Linked DNA regions of Homo sapiens. The protein of the gene in region 1 binds, or shares a complex with, the protein of each later gene. Each region holds a gene or a part of one and is shown in the gene's direction. Other genes may lie near its edges.

Region 1 (7,596 bases):
GTTGCGGTGAGCCAAGATCGTGCCACTGCACTCCAGCCTGGGCGACAGGGTGAGACTCCATCTCAAAAAAAACAAACACCAGTTTTCAGAGACTCCATGATGCCATGTTTGTCAAGAATGTGGAAAAACAAGCCTTTTCTTAAATTGCTAGTTGAAATGTAAAATGATGAAACCTTTCACAAGGCAATTTAAAATGCCCACATTCTTTGACCTAGTAATTCTACTTCTTGGGTCCTGAAAAAATAAAAGCAAAGTGCAGAAGGCAGGCATGGTGGCGTGATCTGTATTCCCAGCTACTCTGGAAGCTGAGGCGTGAGGATTGCTTGAGCCTAGGATTCCAGGCTGGACACTCTAGCCAGGACAACATAGCCTGGCTGTGTTGACACGCTACCCTGGACAACATAGTGAGACCCTGTCTCTTAAAAAAAAAAAAGAAAAGAAAAAGCAATGTGCACAAAGATTAGATAAATCTTGAAATATTTATACTATGGTATGTCGAAAGCTATTGAAAATGTGAGGGACTCATGTTTGTAATCCCACCACTTTGGGAGGCAGAGGTGGAAGGATTACTTGAGGCTACGAGTTGGAAACCAGCCCAGTCAACATAGCGAGAGCACATCTCTGCAAAAATAAAAGTATTAGTTGGGTGTGGTGGCATCCACCTGTAGTCCCAGCTACTGGGGAGGCTGAGGCAGGAGGATCACTTGAACCCAGGAGCTGCAAGCTGCAGTGAGCCATGATCATGCCACTGTGCTCCAGCCTGGGAGACAGAACAAGACGCTGTTTCAAAAAAAAAAAAAAAAAAAAGGTGAGATAGGCCTGTATGTAATTTGAACAATCTCCAAGATATATTATTATGTTAAAAAAGAATACAACTGGGCCGGGCGTGGTGGCTCACGCCTGTAATCCCAGCACTTTGGGAGGTTGAGGCGGGCGGATCACAAGGTCAAGAGATCGAGACCATCCTGGCCAACTTGGTGAAACCCTGTCTCTACTAAAAATACAAAACTTAGCCGGGCATGGTGGCGGGCGTCTGTAATCCCAGCTACTTAGGAGGCTGAGGCAGGAGAATCGCTGGAATCCGGGAGGCGGAGGTTGCAGTGAGCCGAGATCTCACCACTGCACTCCAGCCTGGCGAAAGAGCGAGACTCCGTCTCAAAAAAAAAAAAAAAAAAGAATGCAACTGAACAATATGTACAGACCATTTATGGTTAAAAAAAAAAAATGGAGAAAAATGCACACGCCAAATGGTGGGAAGGTAAATGGGGGGAGCGGGGAATAAACATGTTCCTTAAGTTTTGCCCTGTATTTTATATTTCTCAATTGTTGCATCATGAGCCCAAATATTTGAATATTACCTGTGTAATTAACACATAAAGGCAAATAAGTTAACTTCAATACAAAAGAAGAAATAACACAAAGAGGGTTCTAGGATAAAAAAACTCATGGATTCCCAAACAACTCATAACAGTGGGGGAACTGGGCAGATGAGGGGTGGAGGTGGGAAAGAGACTTTCACTATTTTCTTTTTTTTTTTTTTTTTGAGATGGAGCCTCACTCTGTCGCCCAGGCTGGAGTGCAGTGGCGTAATCTCGGCTTACTGCAAGCTCCGCCTCTTGGGTTCATGCCATGCTCCTGCCTCAGCCTCCTGAGTAGCTGGGACTACAGGCGCCCACCACCACGCCCAGCTAATTTTTTATATTTTTAGTAGAGATGGAGTTTCACCGTGTTAGCCAGGATGGTCTTGATCTCCTGACCTCGTGATCCGCCTGCCTTGGCTTCCCAAAGTGCTGGGATTACAGGCGTGAGCCACCGCGCCCGGCCCACTATTTTCATTTTTGTATTTTTAAACGTTTGGATTAAAAAAGTATGTGCAGGCTGGGCGCAGTGGCTCACGTCTGTAATCCCAGCACTTTGAGAGGCCGAGGCGGGTGGATCACCTGAGGTCAGGAGTTCGAGAACAGCCTGGCCAACATGGTGAAACCCCATCCCTACTAAATATACAAAAATTAGCCGGCCATAGTGGTATGCGCCTGTAAACCCAGCTACTTGGGAGGCTGAGGCAGAAGAATCGCTTCAATCTAGGAGGTGGAGGCTGCAGTGAGCTGAGACTGCACCACTGCACTCTAGCCTGGGTGACAGAGTGAGACTTGGTCTCATAACAACAACAACAACAAAAAATTGGCTGGGCGCAGTGGCTCATGCCTGTAATCCCAGCACTTTGGTAGGCCAAGGCAGGAGGATCATAAGGTCAGGAGATCGAGACCATCCTGGCCAACATGGTGAAACCCCATCTCCACTAAGATACAAAAAAGTAGCTGGGCGTGATGGCACACCGAGTCCCAGCAACTCAGGAGGCTGAGGCAGGGGAATCGCTTGAACCCAAGAGGCAGAGGTTGCAGTGAGCTGAGACTGTGCCACTGCACTCCAGCCTGGCTACGGAGCGAGACTGTCTCAAAAAAATAATTTAAAAAAAGTACGTATTTTATATTCAATAAAAAATTTAAAAGTGTACAGGACAGTTTTGGTGGGGTGGGGTCCAAAGAAGCCCTTGTCCCTTTTTACAATTTAGCAATGGTGTCCAAGGGAGTGAATACAGTCATGGGTTCTTAGTTTCTGTTTCTGGTTGGGCCAGTAAAGCCCCTTCCTCATCCCCCTTTTCCACTTATCACTAGAGACTGAAACTAAAAACCATGGCTTCAGGGTGCTAAAAGCCTAAACAAAACAAAACAAAACAACAACAAAATAAGACAGGTTGGACAAGCTTGCGAGAAGTAGTCGTGACAAGATGGTGTATATTCAACTGGAATAAGGAAGGTTTTTGTGGGTTTCTGTTGTCAGAGAAGGGGTTGTGTTAAAAAGACTGAAGGAGAAATGGAAGTCAGATAAATGGAGAGGGGCCCGGAATTGGTGGGGTGTGGAACCCGGGCAGGGGAGGGCTTAGAAAAGCCATGGAGACAGGCTGGGCGCAGTGGCTCACGCCTGTAATCCCAGCACTCTGGGAGGCCGAGGCCAGCGGGTCACCTAAGGTCGGGAGTTCAAGACCAGCCTGACTAACATGAAGAAACCCCATCTCTACAAAAACACAAAAATTAGCCCGGTGTGGTGTCACATGCCTGTAATCCCAGCTACTCGGGAGGCTGAGGCAGGAGAATCGCTTGAACCTGGGAGGCAGAGGTTGCAGTGAGCTGAGATCGCGCCTTTGCACTACAGCCTGGTTAATAAGAGGGAAACTCCGTCTCAGAAAGAAAAAAAAAAAAAAGAAAAGTCATGGAGACAAAGGTTTGCGTAGGAGGATAAAGGTTTACATAGGGGATGCAGGTAGGCTAAGGGCTGTTTGTGGAAGGATTTAAATACCAGGCTAAGGACTTTGAGATTTATCGTCTAAAGTTCATTGAGCACTTATTCATTGTTGGGTACCGCGCTAAGCCCGTATATGTAATTCTCACAATAAACTGACGGAAATGGTGCTATTTTGCAGCTTAGCCAACAAAGTTGTTTTTGAACAGGGAACGACATAAATCCGTTTGTTTAGGCCAGGCACGGTGGCTCACGCCTGTAATCCCAGAACTTTGGAAGGCCAAACCGGGCGGATCACGAGGTCAGGAGTTCCAGACCAGCCTGGCCAACATGGTGAAACCCAGTATCTACTAAAAATACAAAAATTAGCTGGGCGTGGTGGCACATGCCTGTAATCCCAGCTACTCCGGAGGCTGAGGCAGGAGAATCGATTGAACCTGGGAGGCGAAGGCTGCAGTAAGCAGAGATCGCGCCACTGCACTCCAGTCTGGGCAACGGAGCGACACTCCATCTCAGAAAAAAAAAAAAAGGTATAATATTGAAGAAATCCGTTTGTTTAGAGTGACAAGAAGCACAAACAGGGCAGGTACGGAATACAGACGTTGACATATTCACACTAGCCTTTTTCAGAAAGCAGAGCTCCATTATCTCAAAAAGCTAAAGCGTGACTAGTGTTTCCCACGTCATCATCCTCATTTCCGCAAGGCTGGGCTGGAGAAGAGGAGGTAGACCTAGGAGCCAACAAATGGCTATCAATCCCACCAAATAGGCTCCGCAGTGGGGTTGCTAAACAACGAAGCTTCCAGAAGCGGACCCCAGTTCCCACCCTCTTGCTGATCCTAAAGCCTTTCTATGCAAAAACTAGCGGAATGCTATTGAATGTAGGTTTCCGAGCCAGCCCTATTCTCTCCGACTACTTCAACATCAACGGGGGCTTATTTGCCCAAGGGACGTCGCAACTGGGCCTTTCCCATTCTATTATCACTGGTGGCTCACCACCCCCACTCTCCCCCATCGCCAGCTCCGCCTTAACCTCCCACGAAATCAAATCCCCGCTTTACCAACCCGCAGCAGCCGGGGGCATGGAGAGAGAAGCGGGGGTGGGGTGGGGTAGGGTAGCCGGCCCCTCCCCCACCCGGGGGGGGGGGGGGGGCGCCTCCACCGACTCCGAACTACCAGTCCCGGCGTGCCCTGGGGCGGCGCGGGCGCAGGGGCGCGTGCGCGGCGGGCTGTCGTTGGCTGGAGCAGCGGCTGCGCGGGTCGCGGTGCTGTGAGGTCTGCGGGCGCTGGCAAATCCGGCCCAGGATGTAGAGCTGGCAGTGCCTGACGGCGCGTCTGACGCGGAGTTGGGTGGGGTAGAGAGTAGGGGGCGGTAGTCGGGGGTGGTGGGAGAAGGAGGAGGCGGCGAATCACTTATAAATGGCGCCGAAGCAGGACCCGAAGCCTAAATTCCAGGAGGGTGAGTGTGCGCCTTTGGGAAAAAGGCACCTAACGGCGCAGGAGATAGAGGCGGGCTCGAGGTGATTGAGGCTTGAGGGCCGGGGGCGGCGCGGGCTGCGCCCTGAGAAGGCGGCGGTCAGTGCTTTGTGCGGGGAAAGCGCATTGCGGATGGCAATTCCGGTGCGTCATTGTGAGAAAGCGCTTTGTGAAGCGAGAGTGCTGCGCAGGCGTTAGAGTGGGAGAGAGAGCGTTTGGCGCGTGGCACACCCTCGTCAAGTGTTTGTTATTGTTCTGAGGAAGAGGGCGCGGAGAGAGCAGCCTATTGTAGGGAGGCGACGGGAGCGCCATGGCGGCGGTTAGGGGAAGTGATGTGGCGGCGGGGGGGGAGGGGCGGTGGCTGTTTCGGGCGGTCCTGCGGCGCGCCCGGCCGCTTGGGCAGCTACGACGGGTTTTTCGGTGCTTCCTGGAGCCCCGGGGTGGTTGCGTTCGGTGGCAACTCAGCTGCGGATGGGGGTGGGTTTGGCGCCACGGGGCGGGAGAAGTGCGTTGTAAAATGGCCGTTGCAAGATGGCGGCGCCATCATGGCCGCCGGCGTCTCGGTCCCGTATGGAGGCACAGCTTACGGGCAGATGCAGCGCCCCCTTCCACGACGACCAGAAGGTTGCCGGGGCCCTCCGCATACCACAGAGTGGTGGGTGGGGACAGAAAAAAAAAAGTGAGATGAGCGTTTTCCTCCGCTTTGTGTTGCCTGGAGGCATCACTCTGCTATTCTTGGGCGCAGTGCCGAGATCCTATGGTAATGTGAGTGAGCTCTCGCTTTGCAGTTGCTCGTAAAAAGTAAATAAAAATGATCTGAATGCAGTGTTGACGCCGTTTGCATTTGTAAGTCCCATTGCCTCGACGTCATTTTTTAAATGCAGTAATTGTTTGATTAGTTGCAGTGTTTAACAATGACTTGAAAGTTGAATTTCTTTTTATTAATTGGTTTTCGATTGACATGAGTTTTGGGTAAGGTTAGACTGACTCCCAGTGGAAGGCAGCTCTTTAAATTTTCACAACGCTTCAGTTAACGTATAATAAGGTGGAGGTCTAATAGCTAAAAAGGAAGTAAAGTCCTGTTGAGAAAGGAGGAACACTTTAACATTCCTTTTCATTGCTATGGAAATTTATGCTAGTTACCGTAAATACGATGTCTACATGCGTACGATTTTTGTTCTAGGGGTTTTTAGACTTGCATTAGAATTCCTTTTAGAGCCGTAAACCTCAAACCGTAGTACTGCGTATTTTAAGTTTATGGAATATTTAAGGAGGTTTTAGGGGTATTTTGTTAATGAGTGACTTTTTTTGTTTGTATTTTTGAGACGATGTTTGTCACCCAGGCTGTAGTGCAGTGACGCTATCTCGGCTCACCTCTGCCCCCCACCCGGGCTAAAGCGAGCCTCCCAAGTAGCTGGGATCACAGACGCGCGCCATCACGTCCGGCTAAGTTTTGTTTTGTTCTGTTTTGTTTTTTAGGGTTTTTGTTTTTTCTTTTCTTTTTCTTTCTTTTTTTTTTTTTTTTTTTGTATTTTTGGTAGAGACGGGGTTTCATGTTGCCCAGGCTGGTCTCGAACTCCTGGGCTTGAGCGATCCACCCGCCTCGGCCTCCCAAAGTTGTGGGGGGTTAACGGGCGTGAGGCATCGCTCTCGGCCGTGTGACTTTTAATACCCCTCTCTCACCTTGAGAAGCTGTTGACTCTACCTCCTATGGGTTCATTATTTTACTAGACATTTTAGAGCAGATATTCTTAATCTAGAGTCAGTGCATTAATTGAGACGGTGCGTGAAATTGAGGAAGATTTTTTTTTCTATCTCCCAAGTTTAGTATTTCAATTAACAGTGTAATTGCTCCCCCTAAACCCCGAAAAAAACCACCACATTAGCATTTTCAGTATATTTTCATATCTCAACATTACAGTTATGGAAGATGTTTTCAGTTATCGCATTCTTATTTCTTCAAAATTAGGGTAGTTATTGTATTAGCAGCCAAGTCTTGTTTGTCCTGTAATGTCATAGAACGTGACATTTAAAGTGTTTTGTTTCAGTACAGTTGGTTTCCTTTGTACTAGTGTGTGTTTTATGTATTTATGAAACTATTAGGCTCGTAGGGTTTATCAGACTGTCAAGGCACAAAAAGTTAATCGCTGCTGTGGGAACAACCTAAGGATGGCTGTTCTGGAAGAAGCGCTTTAGTTCTAGAGGGTTGCTAGTTAAGAGAGGAGTAGCAGCAGAGATTTCCTTGTGCCGTTTTAAGTGGGGTAATTGGAGAAGAGTAGGAACCAAGGTATCCCCAGGTAAGGGTTTGAAAGCTGTGTAAGAGAGTCTGTATTTAACATTACTTTCCAGGTGTGTTTTGTACTTGTGTTTAAAATGGAATTGTGTAACCACGTTTTAAAAATGATTTTAGTGGGTGGGGCACGGTGGCTCACGCCTCTAATCCCAGCACTTTGGGAGGCCGAGGTGGGTGGGGGCGGTGGATCACCTGAGGTCAGCGGTTCGAGACCAGCCTGGTCAGCCTGGTGAGCCTGGTGAAACCCAGTCTCTACTAAAAATACAAAAATTAGCAGGGCGTGGTGTTAGGCTCCTGTAATCCCGGCTACTCGGGCGGCTGAGACAGGAAATCGCTTGAACCCGGGAGTCGGAGGTTGCAGTAGGCCGAGATCCTGCCATCGCACTCCAGCCTGGGCCACAGAGTGAGACTCCATTTCAAAAAAAAAAAAAATTTATTAATTAGATGATCGGAGAATATCTTGCAAGGGAAAAAGAATATTTGATGAGTGCTAACAGAATCGTCTTGAAACACTGTAGAGTTTATGT
Region 2 (7,425 bases), on another chromosome or scaffold:
AATTTCTTACCACCTTTTCTAATTATCTGACTCCCATCGTTGGGACAACCAACCACAAAGTGCACACAAATGAGTCTGCCCTCTGGAAAGTTCCACCAAATAACTAAGGGTGGCCTTATTTCAGAGGGCTCCCCACAGTCATCTGAGGGCTATGTAGTCTATTCTGGGTTCCGTAAACAATCTGAAATTTTACCCTATTTGCAAGCTAACAAGCTAGTCAGCCACAGTTTCATCATGCTAGTATTAGACTCAAGACTCCTGTGTTAAGGGATAATTTATTACTCATGGCAATAGCAGTGACCAGAGCAACAGTATTAATTTTTGTGCTGCTGTTCTGAACCCCAATTCCCATATGCCAACATGAAGATGCCACATAATACTTGTACTGGCAATGGACTGCAGCATAGTGTAGTGTAGTGTAGTGTAGTGTAGTGTAGTGTAGTGTAGTGTAGTATAGTATAGTACAGTAAAGTACAGTATAGTACTTAGAGAACCTGATTTTTTTATAATGGGTAGTAATCATGCTTGTTCTTTGCTCCAGAAGGAGTCATTTTCTCTATCTTGGAACGCTGTTCACTACAAAAACATCACTGAAAAGATAGTTTCAGACAAAGCCAGCACCTCTGTTCTCAAGATATTCAGAAACCCAGAAAATTGTCTCCCAAGGGAAGCCTGTAGTTGGGAGAAATTATGAGAAACCACTAACTTCTAATTCAGATTTTGCATGAGTTAGGATTATATTCAGCTACATATAACAAAATCACAACTACAGTGGTTTACCTAAACGTGTTTTTTTGTTTGTTTCATTTTTTTTTCCCTGCATGTCACCAGAGTCCAGAAGTGCACAGTCCAGGTCTGGAACGGCTACATACAAGGTCATCAGGGACCCGGGTCCCTATCCGTCTGCTCCACTATTCTTGTCATGTGGCTTTCCACCCCATGGTCACAACATGCATACGCCACCTCCATCTGTACAGTTCTGGTGGTAGGTGGAGAAGAATGGTGACTAGATTTTAAGGAAGGTTAAAAACACTAGGATAGGAGGCCGGGTGCAGTGGCTCACGCCTGTAATTCCAGCACTTTGGGAGGCCAAGGCAGGCGATCACCACGTCAGGAGTTAGAGACTAGTCTGGTCAACATGGTGAAACCCCATCTCTACTAAAAATACAAAAATTAGCCTGGCGTGGTGGCGGGCGCCTGTAATCCTAGCTACTCCGGAGGCCTCAGCCTACTACTCCAGAGGCCTAGCTACTCCGGAGGCCTCCTGCGGAGGCAGGAGAATCGCTTGAACCCGGGAGGGGGAGGTTGCAGTGAGCCGAGATCGCACCATTGCACTCCAGCCTGGGCAACAAGGTCGAAACTCTGTCTTAAAAAAAAAAAAAAACCCAAAACACTAAGATAGGAAAGAGGAAGAATTAAGATATACATGTAAGGTGATCAGGAGACACTAACAAGTTAATTTTCTCAGATGCAGTGTGAGTATAAAAATTAGAAAATTTGAGCAAGTAGGTGGATTAGATCAAAGTGATACTGTGTTTTGAAGGTCATCAGCAAAGCATTAATCAGTTAATAATGTAACAGGAATGATTTGAAAGGTTTAGTGTAACAGTAATTGAGTAGATAAGCTATAGTTCAAAAATATATTTTTAATGTAAATGGGTAATTTGAAATTTTGTTACACAAATGCACAGTTCAAAAGTACTATAATCTCTCATTGTTAGATGTTGCTATTCAGGTTTATAAGTTATAGCTTGTAGTACTGTGTAAAGATAGGCACCATGCTTACAAGATCAGAATTCAGCTTGAGGCTGTGTGAGTTTACGACAACACTGTAGTGTGCCACTGTACTTCTCTACCTTCTGTATCGCCGTATGGAATTACTACACAAAATTAGCACTAAGAAACCTAAATTTCCTTACAGTAGAAATAAGCTTATATGAATAATTCTCTTATAGAAATTAAACTATCTGCTGCAGTTGTCAGCAGGGTTTAATTTTTAGCATAAGCTGAGGCCATCAGTTTCTTAGCAGTCCTATTCTTAAATAATCATTTCTGTTTAAGAGATCATTTTACTGAACAATTTCAAAGCACTAAATATCTTCGAGATTGAAAAAATAAGCACCTATAGATGGAGCAGAAACTAAAGAAGAACAATTTAAGGAAAAAGACAGTCCTTAACTATGCACGCATCCTATGAATTATCCATGCTTTCAGCTGGTTTCCTTTTACTGCACTGTCTAAAACTCCATATTTAAAAGGGTTTGATACAGCAGAGTTAGAATGTGGTCAATGAAATCTGGAGCTTGTCAATGGGTTTCAATAACTGATGCCACTTTTAGCTCTGCTAACATAGTAGAGATTATAGACAGAATTCTCTTGGCCAACTCCTATCATGGGATAAAACTCCTCCCACACCAGTTTCTAAAGGTAATGTAACTTGCTTCTATTGGTTTAAAATTATTAAATAATAAATACGTTTCTCAGCTAGTCAAAAGATATGTCCAGGCTCTTCTCACAAGTTCAATGTTAGGTGCTGTGGGTGCAAACAGTAATTTAGTAATTGTCACTGTTATTATAGTAATCCTAATAATCCCTTATTCACATAATTCTTCATTTTTTAAAAGTATTCCATATTAATTTTCTTATTTGAGATTCTGAATATTACTCTCCAAGTAATACTGCCCCATTTTACAGATAAGGCAATTCAAAAAACGTTTAAGTGACTTGCCCTAAGTCACAGGCACTAGAGAAACTATTACATGCAAGATAAACCTGGTCCCTTCATTTATGACACTCCATTCATAGTGGGACATTCAGACGAGTTGTGGGCAACTGCAACATGGTTAAGTGTTGAGCTACAGCATACAACGTACATGGCATGGAGAACAGTCTTGGCGGGAGAGGGGTCAGGGAAGTCTTCCCAAAAGAAACAAAGTGTCATTTCAGACTTCATTGTGTTGGCCCTGGGGAAGAACATTCACTTCTACTAAATTCACTTATTCTGTTCTCAGAATCTTCCAAGTTGATTTTGTACTTGATAGAGCACAACTTAGAAGGTCAATTAACTTTACCTCTAGGCCAGTGTTTCACTCACCGTAATTTCTCTAGCAACTTCATCAGTCACCTGGGGTCTTGTTAAAAATACAGAGGAGGGGGCGGAGGGAGGGCAGGGGCCACCCTGGACTTAACTTTTTCTAAATCTCTTGGGGGTGAGGTTGGGGAAAATTGCTGCTTTAAGCATGAACACTTTCGGGATTTTGAAGTCAAACAGCAAATTAAAAGGGGTATTTTTGGTAGTGGCTCTTAAATTCCAGCATCAATACAGCCTTTTTTTTTTTTTAATAGGGGTGTATTTGGGGGGTAGGGATAGCAATTTTATATAACTGGGATTGGGTGCTATAAAACAGGCTGTTAGCCTCCAGCCCTCACCTGCAAGGTGGCTGGCTTAAGGTAGGTACTTGATAAATGTGGATTTATTTAACAGAGGAACACTTGTATTCATAACCTCCAAGAGTTTCGAAAGTCTTTCTGCTCCAATCTTCCAGTGTCTAGCCAGCAGCATTGCTGCAGAGTGGAACAGCTAGGGTGCGTGGAGTTTGCAGAATGAGTTCAAACCTCCAGACTTATCAGTTAGCAGTAAGAACAAGTTCCTTAATCTGCCTCCACCTATAAAGAAGGAGTACAATTGCCACTTACCTCCTAGAGTTGTTGAGAGTCTTAAATGAGATTAAATATTATAAATAGATTATCAATGGAATATATTATAAATGCAAGTGCTTAGAACTGTACCTTATAAATGAGCTCCACAGATGCTTATTAAAACCCGAGCGGTGCCCTCTCCCCTTAACATCCGTAATAGGCCCCCTTACACCTCATACCCATTACGAGTCAAAATAATAATAATAATAATAAATAAGTGAACAAACGACAAACGAGAAAACTAGGCTACCAGGCACTGGGGCGATGGGCCACAGCCCGGCGGGGTAGTGGGCCCGGAAGGGGCGCGGGAGTGGGCTCTCCCCGCCGGGCTCGCGGCACGTGGTCGGCTTGGGCGGGAGCTTCGCGACAGTGGGGGAGGGGAGCAGCGTGGGACGCCGAGGAGGGGTCCAGACCGCCAAGGCTACGAGGCGCCGACTGCGCAGGCTCGGGGACAGGCGCAACCACTGCGCGCAGACCTGAGGGGGAGAACGTCCACCCGGCTGCACGCTCCCTGGATCTACTTGCGCAGCGAAAGCTTGTCTTCTTCCTCATTTTAACACTGTGTATGGCGCCGCCTTGCGCAGGTTGTTCACCCTAACAGGGCCTCTAACCTCGAGCCCGAAACGGCCTCCTTCTCCAGCCGTGCCCCTTCCTCCCCCGTGGAGGCCGCAGTGGATGCGCTCACCTCCCTGCGGCCTCCTGAGGTGGTTTGGTGGCCCCCTCCTCGCGAGTTGGTGCCGCTGCCACCTCCGATTCCGAGCTTTCGGCACCTCTGCCGGGTGGTACCGAGCCTTCCCGGCGCCCCCTCCTCTCCTCCCACCGGCCTGCCCTTCCCCGCGGGACTATCGCCCCCACGTTTCCCTCAGCCCTTTTCTCTCCCGGCCGAGCCGCGGCGGCAGCAGCAGCAGCAGCAGCAGCAGGAGGAGGAGCCCGGTGGCGGCGGTGGCCGGGGAGCCCATGGCGTACAGTCAAGGAGGCGGCAAAAAAAAAGTCTGCTACTACTACGACGGTGAGCGGCCGGGCCGGTGTCGGGGTGGGCGCGCGGGGCCGGGCGCTGGGTTCCGCGGCTGCCGTCGCGAGTGGGCGCCGGGGCTGAGGGGTGGGAAGGAGGAGGGACCGACATTTGGCCGCATCTTAACCCGTTCCCGGCCCGGCACAGTTAGAACGAGACCCTCTTCCTGGCGCAGCCCCCGCGGTTCCTGCGGGCGGGAATCAGGGGGCCCGCCCGTCTTGTCTCCTGCCTCTCCCCCTTCGGCCGTGCAGTCCGCAGCCTCGAAGGTGGCCGCCGCTGGGGACGGCGCCGGCCTACCCCGCCTTGGTGGTGGCGGCGGCGAAGGGGGCGGCCCATTCTCTCCCTTCTCCCGCCCACCATTCGTGGCAACGCAGGTTTGGGGTGCCCCGCGTCGGCCTCCTACCCCCTCGACCCGTCCCCCGCGAGGCAAAATTTCTATCCCGGCCTTGACTCTACACAAAGCCCCGCGGCCGCGAGAGCTCCGCCCCTCCCGTCCCCTTCCCTCCTCCTCGCCTGCTCGCCTCCCCTACCCTGCGTTCGGTCTGGCCGGAGCGTCTTCTCCTTCCTCGGCTTACCCTTTCCCCGGACCCCTCCTCCCGGTGGGCGCTGGAGAGTAGTTACTGAGGGTGGGGGCTCAGGTCGCGTGTGGCTTTATCACACCCATGTTTTGCGTGGGCTCCAACCCTCTCCTTTGTTCGCTGGGTTCTTTGAGCGCGTCTTTCTCAGGATTCAAATGGAAGGGCTTCACTTCCTCAATAATAGTTCGGGTTTTCCAGTTTCAGGCAGAAAGACTTCGTAGGAAATAAGAGGTGGTAGGGAGATGTGGAACTGCTACTGCTTGTGTTGTAGATCAGACTCCATGGGTCCTGGCTTGCCTCAGAGAGGTGGTTACCACCCACTTCTTTGTTGCTCTTTGTTCGATCAGGAAATAGACCCTGCTTTGGGGATTTAGAGAGCATTGGTATCTTGCAAAGGCTGTTCCTAGGTGGTGGGGAATCCTGGTATGGGAAAACTTTGAGAAGTGGGAGAAGTGCAGAAGTACTAAATATTCTAATGAGGTAAATTTGAGGTCACCGTGTAGTGAATTATAAAAGTCAGATAATTTAATTATCTTAAGCATTCTATAATTTGGAGTATGAGCAGTAACATTAAATCTTCGAATCCTGTTTCCTGTGTTTTCTTGCTCAATGGAGTAGTAACCTGTTATACAGATTTCACAAAGGCTTGGTAAATAGTTTATAGTAGGTTACTCTTGAGAGAAGGGATTCCAAAATTTAACAGAGAATCTATCCTAGGCTCCTTCTCCTGAAAGTCCTGTCTGATTTGTAGGAAGCAATACAAATTTTGGAAGCTGTTTCCTACATGTGGTGTATTGTAAATCACAAAATTTTAGAGAAGTAAGACCCCAGAGCACCAGCTCAGAATAAATCTACTTTAACTTGTAAATGACCGTACTGTCTCTTTTTAGTTAAAAAGGATTAATCTTTTAATGACTGATACATATAAAATAACCACCTGTGTCATTTGGGGAAAATCTGAAATCTTACAGAACAAATCTAAATTGATCTGCGATAGCTAGGACAGAATAATAACAGCCCTACTTTTAAAAATGATTTTTCAGAGGACTAGATATGCATTATATAAGTTGATTTGAAATTATGCCATCGTGGAGGGGTGGAGATGGAAATACATTTTAATTTCAACATGATTTACATTGCATATTTTGGGTTATTCTTGCCCTGCATTCCCTGATCAAATTGGAAAGGAAGTAACCCTGCGTATAAGTTAATTTGTAAAATTACATTGTTTCTAAAGTTTAGAGATTTATCCTTGTCAGGGCTTGGAGTAAAGAGGAAAATTTTGGTTAGGGAAAGTGGTACTGAGGTCCTTCTCGAAGCTGTCAGTTGGTGTTGGTAGTGATGGGCTCTGAGGAAGTAAGCTGCTTGTAATTTGTTGTCACCACAATGGAACCCTAGAACCAGGAGGGTACACTTGAGTAGCAGTTTCTGAACAGCGCTCTTGTCCTGGGCCCATTTATGATAACCTTCGTTGTGGGAATGGGAGCAGGCACGGGTACCCGGGAAAGGATGCAAGCTTGATAAGTAGGGTGGAAATATTTGTCTTGTGATTGTGACTTAATATGATACTTTATTGTAGCCCATTCACCTGCTTACGTGATGGCCAGCAACAAGTGAATAGCTGATAGTTTGGAAATCTCTGGTGGGTTATTTTGTCTTTTGTCTGTGACTCGTTTGTTAAAGTGGAGTTCCTAGTTGCTTATGTTTCACATACTCTTTTAATTTTTGTGGGAGGGAATTAAAATATTTTGCAGAGATTATTAATGTTTATATTATGCTAATTATTAATATGTGATAGTGTGCTGACCTCATCCAAAAACTTATATTTTTATTACCAGAGAACATTGTTTTGTCAGCTTACAAAAGTAGCAATACTAATTCTTTTTTTATTGTGAGAAGAGAATGCAAGGAAAGGAGCTTCTGTATCAAAGAATCGTGACTTTAAGGTATATAACATGGATTGGATTGGGAATGGGTTATATCTGTAGTAATAGGGTCTGAATTATCTGCTAGCCTAGGTTAGATGGTTTTAACTTCTTGGTAAAGGAAGTAGAAGGAAGAAAGTGAGTGAAAAAGAAAAGGACGGAAGTAGCAAATTCTATAACCATAGGAATCCTACCTTTAGGCTTCCTGGGG
Region 3 (7,942 bases), on another chromosome or scaffold:
TGCCTCCAGCACCCTGGATGCTGCCCACATTGCAGCTGCCATCTTCTTGCCACTGGTGGCGATGGTGTTGTTGGTAGGAGGTGTATACTTCTACTTCTCCAGGTGAGTCTGGCTTCTCTTTCTGCTCTGCATACCTGCATACCTCACTCCTACCCAGTGCTCCTGACTTGCAGGCTTCTCTGCCCCACAGGCTCCAGGGAAAAAGCTCCCTGCAGCTGCCCCGCCCCCGCCCCCGCCCCTACAACCGCATTACCATAGAGTCAGCGTTTGACAATCCAACTTACGAGACTGGAGTAAGTAACCATGCCAGCCTTGCCACCCTATCCAAGACCCAGTTCTTTGCTTCTTTGGGCAGATAACCCTGAGGGTCCTGCCAAGCCCTCTCACTTTTTCCCTTTTCCTAGGGAAGGTGAATTATGGCCTGGCAAACCTAATACAAGTTTCCAACTCCCAGCAGTCTCTTTCCTTTGCAGGAGACGAGAGAATATGAAGTCTCCATCTAGGTGGGGGCAGTCTAGGGAAGTCAACTCAGACTTGCACCACAGTCCAGCAGCAAGGCTCCTTGCTTCCTGCTGTCCCTCCACCTCCTGTATATACCACCTAGGAGGAGATGCCACCAAGCCCTCAAGAAGTTGTGCCCTTCCCCGCCTGCGATGCCCACCATGGCCTATTTTCTTGGTGTCATTGCCCACTTGGGGCCCTTCATTGGGCCCATGTCAGGGGGCATCTACCTGTGGGAAGAACATAGCTGGAGCACAAGCATCAACAGCCAGCATCCTGAGCCTCCTCATGCCCTGGACCAGCCTGGAACACACTAGCAGAGCAGGAGTACCTTTCTCCACATGACCACCATCCCGCCCTGGCATGGCAACCTGCAGCAGGATTAACTTGACCATGGTGGGAACTGCACCAGGGTACTCCTCACAGCGCCATCACCAATGGCCAAAACTCCTCTCAACGGTGACCTCTGGGTAGTCCTGGCATGCCAACATCAGCCTCTTGGGAGGTCTCTAGTTCTCTAAAGTTCTGGACAGTTCTGCCTCCTGCCCTGTCCCAGTGGAGGCAGTAATTCTAGGAGATCCTAAGGGGTTCAGGGGGACCCTACCCCCACCTCAGGTTGGGCTTCCCTGGGCACTCATGCTCCACACCAAAGCAGGACACGCCATTTTCCACTGACCACCCTATACCCTGAGGAAAGGGAGACTTTCCTCCGATGTTTATTTAGCTGTTGCAAACATCTTCACCCTAATAGTCCCTCCTCCAATTCCAGCCACTTGTCAGGCTCTCCTCTTGACCACTGTGTTATGGGATAAGGGGAGGGGGTGGGCATATTCTGGAGAGGAGCAGAGGTCCAAGGACCCAGGAATTTGGCATGGAACAGGTGGTAGGAGAGCCCCAGGGAGACGCCCAGGAGCTGGCTGAAAGCCACTTTGTACATGTAATGTATTATATGGGGTCTGGGCTCCAGCCAGAGAACAATCTTTTATTTCTGTTGTTTCCTTATTAAAATGGTGTTTTTGGAAAAAAAAAAAAAAAAAAAAAAAAAAGCAATGGCCAGGTGAATGATGCTTTCTTGGAGGGACGGGAGGTGGGAGATAAATGGGATATGGACTTCAGGACCAGAAGGCATGCTAGACCCACCAATCAATCATCTTCAGATTTTATTTTATTACTACTGTTTTTGAGATAGGGTCTCACTCTGTCAACCAGGGTGGAATGCAGTGACTGGATCACGGTTCACTGCAGCCTCAACCTCCAAGGCTCAAGTGATCCACCTCAGCCTCCTGAATAGTTAAGACTATAGATGCAGGCCACCACACATGGCTAATTTAAAAAAAAATTATTGTAGAGATGGGGTCTTACTATGTTGCCCAGGCTGGTCTCCAACTCCTGGGCTCAAGTGATCCTCCCACCTCAGCCACCCAAAGTGCTCAGATTTTATTTTAAAAGAAATTATTGCATGCAGTTGAACAGGGTCCCCTGTACCAAAAGGGACAGTGCAACAGATAGCAGGCAAAATCAGAGGCCCCAATGGCTGATGTTACAGGGATGTGGGAGCCCAGGAACCCCACTGCACATCCACCCAATGCCTTATTTCCTCCTCTTTGCCAGGTCCAGAACTACAGGCTGGCACACTCCCAAATCCCTTCTCAACGCCACTGATGCCCTTCTCAATGCTAACTAGGCTCAGGAAGTCTGATGCATCTCTCCTTCCCCTTATTTCTAAGTAAGCAAGGCTTGGGAAATTAGAATAGGAAACAGAGACTGATCCCCAAAACATGAAGCCCTAATCTGGCTTGGCCTTACAAAACCCTTAGATTGTCAGGAGCAGTGGTAATGCAGCTTACGGGCTTGGATCCTAAGTTAGGCAAAGGCCCTAACCATGGGCTCTGGAAAAAGGTGGCTGGGAGGATGTGCTCAAGTTTGCCCCTTCCCTATGGGCCCCAGCACCTACAAAGATGGAAAGTGCCCAGCGTTGGCCCCCAGTATGCACATTCCATGCTGAGAGGTGTGCCCTGCATTGCTGCTCTCCAAGAGTGACAGCAAGAGGCAGGCAACAGGAAATTATGGGAGCTCAGAAACCAGTAGAGAAAAATCCATGAAAGAAATAATAGCAGCAACCAGCACCTTCTGCTTCTACAGTCTTCCAAAAGGGAAGTCTTGACCACTCATGCTGCCTACCCCTGGCTCTAGCACAAGCCACCTTGAAGGATGGAGAAGCTCTTGTCCATGCAGAGTGCAGTGCCTAGATTAGCCACAAGAGGTCACTTCCAAAGGCGTCTGTATCCCACCTGCTCGCCCCTCAATCCCCCCTCAACTGTCAGGGCGGGAGCTCTCCAAGGTGGGAGCATTCCTTGGCCCCACTGGCCTAACCTCATCCTGCAAGTTCCAAGAGGAAGAGGTGTGAAGTTTCCCTGGCTCTTGTCAACAGAGCCAAGTCTTATTTCCCTCATTAGCCCATAGTTCCTATTATCAGCTGCAATTGATGGTGTTGATCAAAGCAAAGCCTTGTCCAGTGGATGGATGCCAATGGCTTACTTACCTGTTCCATAATGCCTCCAGGTTAACACAGCAGCACAGCTGGGCCCTGAGCAGTAGGAAAAAAAGCCAAAGAGAGAGGGCACATGAGGTTCTAAACTCTGAGAGCCTGTGACATAAAATATAGCCATAGGAGATAGAAAATCTTGCCTCTTTCATACAAACAATCTAGCTCAGCCCTCCCCTCTCTGATGGCCACATCTCTGGTCCACAGCTCCTGAAGTTTATTGTTGGCTCAGAATGGTAGAAAGCAGAGGGCAGCCAATTCACATGACATTCTCCACCCCACCATCCATGACCTTATCATTCTTTCCAGGCACCAAGAGGGTCATCAGAAAAGCGAAAAGTCAGGAAAACAGAAACCTAAGACTCCATACACTGACATCCCCACTCTGTCTAACTCATCCTCCTTACTGTCCCCAAAGCAAGCATAGTAATTCCTTAGACACAGTCGACATAGTGTAATGGACAGTGTCTGGCTTGAGAATCAAGAAATCCAATTCTTAGGTCTGCCATAAATGCACTATGTGACCTAGGCAAATCACTGCGCCTCCCTGTGCATCTGGAAAAGAGGGGATTAAATCAGATGGTCTCTAAACCCTTGCTAGTTTGACGACTCTGAGAATGCTGTGTCCCTTAACATTAAAAGTGGGCCGAGCACAGCTACGAAGCAACAATTCCAACTAAACCCCTAGTGTCAAGCACAACGATACAATTCTCTTTTCCACTGCTTCATCCACCATCAGGCAGCAATAACCAACCGCCCATCTCTGACGGCAATACCAAGGGGAGGAGCGGGCGCCCTGAAAAGGAGCATGAATCCCCGCCCAGAATGCGAGGCGGGCCCTCAGACTACAAATCCCGGCATGCAGCACTGACGCTCTCAAAAGTATCCCTTCCTGGCCGGCAAATGACTCTTCCCCGGGTCTATCCTACCATAGAGTGCATCGCACGCACATGGAACTACAGTTCCCACAATCCATCAGACCTATCGCGATTCTTGCTCCCAGGATGCAATGCGCCCCCGTTCGCCCTTTAGACCCTTTGGCGTTGCAAACTGGGAGTTGGAGTCCGGGGTACGCAGGTAGCTGGGCGTTGTCAGGATTACAAACTCTCCACTTTAGGCTTCCTCTTGAAGAGCAGATCTCAGGGACAGTGGTGAAGAGAGGGTGGTAACGGGCAGGCGGAACTCTCCAGTGCCACCACCACGCAAGGCAGGGATGCTGAGGATACAATTAACTGATAAAATTATCTGTCAGGAGCGGGAGAGAATTAGGAACCACAGTCATCCCACACGCCTCCAAAAGCGTCATTTTCTGTCTCAAATGGCTTTTCTCTTTACCAATATGGTGGCCTGGTCCAGCCACACCCGATGGTAGAACCAAACGGTCAAGTACAACATCCCTAGGAATACTGCTGTCACCGACAGGCGACCAGCTCCATCCAACACCACACCTTGCTCCTTTCTGTTCATGCCTGAGGACTCCAAGGGCATGATAGCCCATATCCCATTACCAAAATGGCGAAAGGAGCAGCTTTCTTGTGAGGGCCTGCGGAAGGCAATACGCCTGCGCGGGAGGCGTCTGTGTTATGGAGAGGAAGGGGGAGCACCCCCAACACGCCTGCGCAGAACAGAGTCGTCTTAGTTTGCACACAAACACCAATGGATGAACAGTCCCTAGCTTCCTGCGGCTGCGCCTTGACCCCTACAAGCTTTCTCAAGCGCCTGCGCGAGACCTCAGGTCCCGCCCTTTTGTCTCAGTGCGCTGGCGCAGGGCAGAAAGGTGGGGCTTCGGTCCTCCAGACGAATGCCAGCGCGGCTGCGCGCTGGGGGGTACTCCCTCACCGCGGCTGCGCGGGAGCCAGGCCGCCGGCTGTCACTGCGGTTGCGCGCGGCGAGCGCCGATCCCGGGGCGCCTGCGCGGGTGGCTTTGCGGGCGCTCGCGGTAAGTTTGCGCCAAGTGCGCGGCAGCCGGGACGCAGACGGCGGCGGCGGCGAGAGGCGGAGCCCGGGGACCACCCCCCATCACCCTCCCCCCAGTCACCTCACGTACCACAACCTCACGTAACCTCTCACCCCCCCTCCGATACCCCCAGCCCCGGGATGGCAGCGCCCGCCAGCCTTCCCGGCCGGACCGGCTGTCGCCAGTGCCGGCTTTAGCCTGTGGGACTAGGCCCCGCCGAGGCCTGACCCCCGGAGCCGGGACCCACTGTGCAGCCAGCAGCCGGGCCGGGACTGAGGGGCCGCTCCCCCCTCGCGGCCCGTCGGGAGGACGCTGTCGTCCCGGGGACTGGGGGCCGGGGGGTGGGGGGGAGCCAGGGCGAGGAAGTCGGGACCCGTATTGGGAAAAAAGCGGGGCCGGGGTCAGGAGCGCCCCCTCCCCTCACCTCCCCCCTCCCCCCGGGGTTGGGGGGGCCGGAGCAGAGAGCACCCAGCCCGGGAGGTGGATGAATGTGGGAGAAAATGGAGACCAAGACGATCGTGTACGACTTGGACACATCAGGGGGGCTGATGGAGGTAAGAGTGGCCCTCCTCATCTCCTTCCTCCAGCGCCGGGAGGGAACCTCCGCCCTCCGCCCCACAAAGCCAGTCCTAAACTCGAAGCGCCTAGATGGCCGAGGGAGGGGGATTCTTCCTCACCTAGCCTCTCCCTCCCCTCTTTGCAATTTAGGGGGCTGAGCTCAGCCTCCGAGGACGTTTGCAGCAGTTTCACCTACCCGCCGCCCTCGATTCGCTCTCCCGAGGCGCCAGCCCACTCCATCTCGTTGCACCGGCAGGCCTCCCCACCCCCTTCTTGTTGGCCCCTTTGTGCTTCCCCCAGCACGTCCGGGTACCGGGCTTTGGGCCTCTCCCGAGCGGGTCTTTGGAGTCCCCCACTGTCCATACAAGGAAGTGGCAAGAAGGGAACCGCGCACCCTCTTCCCATCCCCCTACCCTTGATCCTCCCCATTTGGAAGAAGCTGTTCTCGTTGTTGTGCTGCAGGAACGCGGTTAGGGTGGGCTCCCCCTGGTTCCGGGGGCTGAGAGATTCTGGGAGCAGCCTGGATGGGAGGAAGAAGGACAAAAGGGGGGAGAGGGGTGGGTGACGGAGAAACCGCGCCGGGGGGGCGACGGACCGCCCGGGAGCTCCGAGTGTGCACACACGCCGTTTGTATGTGTGTGCAGCAAATCCAAGCTCTGCTGGCTCCCCCCAAGACGGACGAGGCAGAAAAGCGCAGTCGGAAGCCTGAGAAGGAGCCCCGGAGAAGCGGCAGGGCCACCAACCACGACAGCTGCGATAGCTGCAAGGAAGGTGGAGATCTCCTGTGCTGCGACCACTGCCCGGCTGCCTTCCACCTCCAGTGCTGGTAAGGTCTGGGGACCCTTTTGGAGCTTCTTGGCGGACCCTTCTCTGCGCATTCCTTCACCCGGCCTGCCCCTGACTGCCGAAATAACGGGCGCTTGCAGCCGCTAGCTGACTTTCTGCAGCTGCCGGGGCGAGCACCTCCCCGCCCCCAGGTGTCCGCCGGGTTCTGGCAGTTTAGCGGGGAGGAGCAGCGGTGGGTCCGGACCCCGAGGTGGGGGTTGGGACGAGTGAAGAGAACCCCATATGGGATTGGAAGTCGCTGGGGAGCCGGGACAGAGCCGGCCGGGGACAGCCGGCAGTGGCGGGGGAGGAAGGGGAGGAGCTCCGGGCCCAGTGCCGCTTGCCTGCCCGCGCGCCCGCTGCCCTCGGGGCTCCTGCCCGGCCGGGATCTCCTCGGGGTGGGTGCGTGGAGCCCTCGGCCACCTGAGTTGCCCTGGTCCAGACCCCGGCAACCGGGCGCTTGTGGCTGTAGAAAAAATCGTGGAGGGTGTCTCTCGAGTCCGCCTCTTCTTTGCCTCTCTGTTTACAATATGGCGACCTGCCTTTAAATTATATTTTTATTCTCAGCGCCATTTTGGCTGCATATATGATTTGCAAACGTCTCTCGGGGGAACGGTGGGGACAGCCCCAGAGTCCTTTCTGCAGAAGCTCCTCGGGGGCCCCGTCTGGGATCTCGCCGCTTTGATCCCCTTTCTCTGCCTCCGCTTGCCCCCTGTTGCCTCTCAGAGCTGCCTTCCTTCCTCCTCCCTCTTCCCTCCTCCCTCCCGGCGCCGCTGCCTCTTAGGAAATCGGGCCGGGTTAGACAATTAAAATTGCCCTTGGGCGCCGATTTCATTTCTCCGCTCCGGATCGGCGAGCCCTTCGCTGCAAAATTCTTTGCTGCCAGAGGGAGGATTGTGTGCGGTGGCACTAGAAAGGCATTTTTAAGGAGCTGAGAGCTGGAAAGCCGTACGCTTTTTCCCCCTTACTGGACATGAGAGGAGGGGAGAGACCGAACCGAGAGGGAGGGACCTGAGTTGATCGCCCGCTGCGTGATCCTCCTCAGCGGCTCAGCCCAGGACAATCCGGCAAAGAAGAGTTTAAACTCCATCTTCTGCCGGCCGAAATCACCTCTGCCCTCCACAAAAATCCCACATCTGCGGCAGCAAACCCAGATTTCGTCTTGTTCTACTGGGTCTCGTTCTGTTGTTCTGCAACAGTTGACTGAGGCAGGGGTTTGAGAGAGGAGCCAGACTGGAGAGAGGAAAAGGGGGCTGTTCTGTGTTCCCACCAGTTGTTTGATGTTGCCTTTTTTAGCCCTCTTTTTATTTTGTTTTAAGTGAAATTTCACCGAAGGTCTCTCAACAGTTCCATTCACGTTCCATCTCTCGGTTTGTGGAGTAGTGTCTACTGTATATTTGTACTAATTGCAGGTTTGGGAACACTTATTAGACAGATGACTGATACTGAGCAAATTAAGTTTATGGTCAGAAGTTATGTAGGAAACTCCCATTACCATTCCCAAGATACTTTTGCCCAGGAGGGCACCCCATCCCAGCTTGTAAAATTGCTGGGAC

What was found. The genes of interacting proteins can lie anywhere in the genome.
Region 2: the proteins of MORF4L1 (region 1) and HDAC2 are in contact, whole or in part, in a cryo-EM structure (PDB 8C60), measured with the Homo sapiens proteins. Residues at the interface, in NP_996670.1 of Homo sapiens: Pro355, Glu356, Arg359, Lys360; in NP_001518.3 of Homo sapiens: Gln93, Arg94, Asn96, Ser146, Glu147.
Region 3: the proteins of MORF4L1 (region 1) and PHF12 are in contact, whole or in part, in a cryo-EM structure (PDB 8BPA), measured with the Homo sapiens proteins. Residues at the interface, in NP_996670.1 of Homo sapiens: Glu201, Lys204, Pro205, Leu207, Val208, Asp209, Trp211, Asp212, Tyr251, Ala252, Glu255, Val256, Gly259, Ile260, Glu262, Tyr263, Val266, Met267, Thr270, Gln271, Leu272, Leu273, Tyr274, Lys275, Arg278, Pro279, Tyr281, Ala282, Leu285, Arg304; in NP_001028733.1 of Homo sapiens: Cys62 (codon at 6,323), Glu64 (codon at 6,329), Gln81 (codon at 6,380), Cys82 (codon at 6,383), Asn84, Pro86, Pro204, Leu206, Arg207, Arg208, Pro209, Phe210, Leu212, Leu213, Ile214, Ala216, Ala217, Arg220, Asn221, Pro222, Thr223, Gln224, Phe225, Gln226, Leu227, Pro228, Glu230, Leu231, Thr232, Thr330.

What each region holds. Positions count from the first base shown.
Region 1 is NC_000015.10:78,868,299-78,875,894, forward strand, and holds the start of MORF4L1 (mortality factor 4-like protein 1), read left to right. Parts: upstream 1-4,591; 5' UTR 4,592-4,719; coding exon 4,720-4,759; exon of another isoform or gene 4,760-4,920; intron 4,921-7,596. UniProt on the Homo sapiens protein: Component of the NuA4 histone acetyltransferase (HAT) complex which is involved in transcriptional activation of select genes principally by acetylation of nucleosomal histones H4 and H2A.
Region 2 is NC_000006.12:113,968,140-113,975,564, reverse strand, and holds the start of HDAC2 (histone deacetylase 2), read left to right. Parts: upstream 1-4,416; 5' UTR 4,417-4,656; coding exon 4,657-4,708; intron 4,709-4,835; exon of another isoform or gene 4,836-5,085; intron 5,086-5,286; exon of another isoform or gene 5,287-5,864; intron 5,865-6,905; exon of another isoform or gene 6,906-6,931; intron 6,932-7,425. UniProt on the Homo sapiens protein: Histone deacetylase that catalyzes the deacetylation of lysine residues on the N-terminal part of the core histones (H2A, H2B, H3 and H4).
Region 3 is NC_000017.11:28,948,510-28,956,451, reverse strand, and holds the start of PHF12 (PHD finger protein 12), read left to right. Parts: upstream 1-4,933; 5' UTR 4,934-5,491; coding exon 5,492-5,557; intron 5,558-6,205; coding exon 6,206-6,387; intron 6,388-7,942. Other genes in the region: SEZ6 (seizure protein 6 homolog), read left to right, coding at 1-102, 474-846.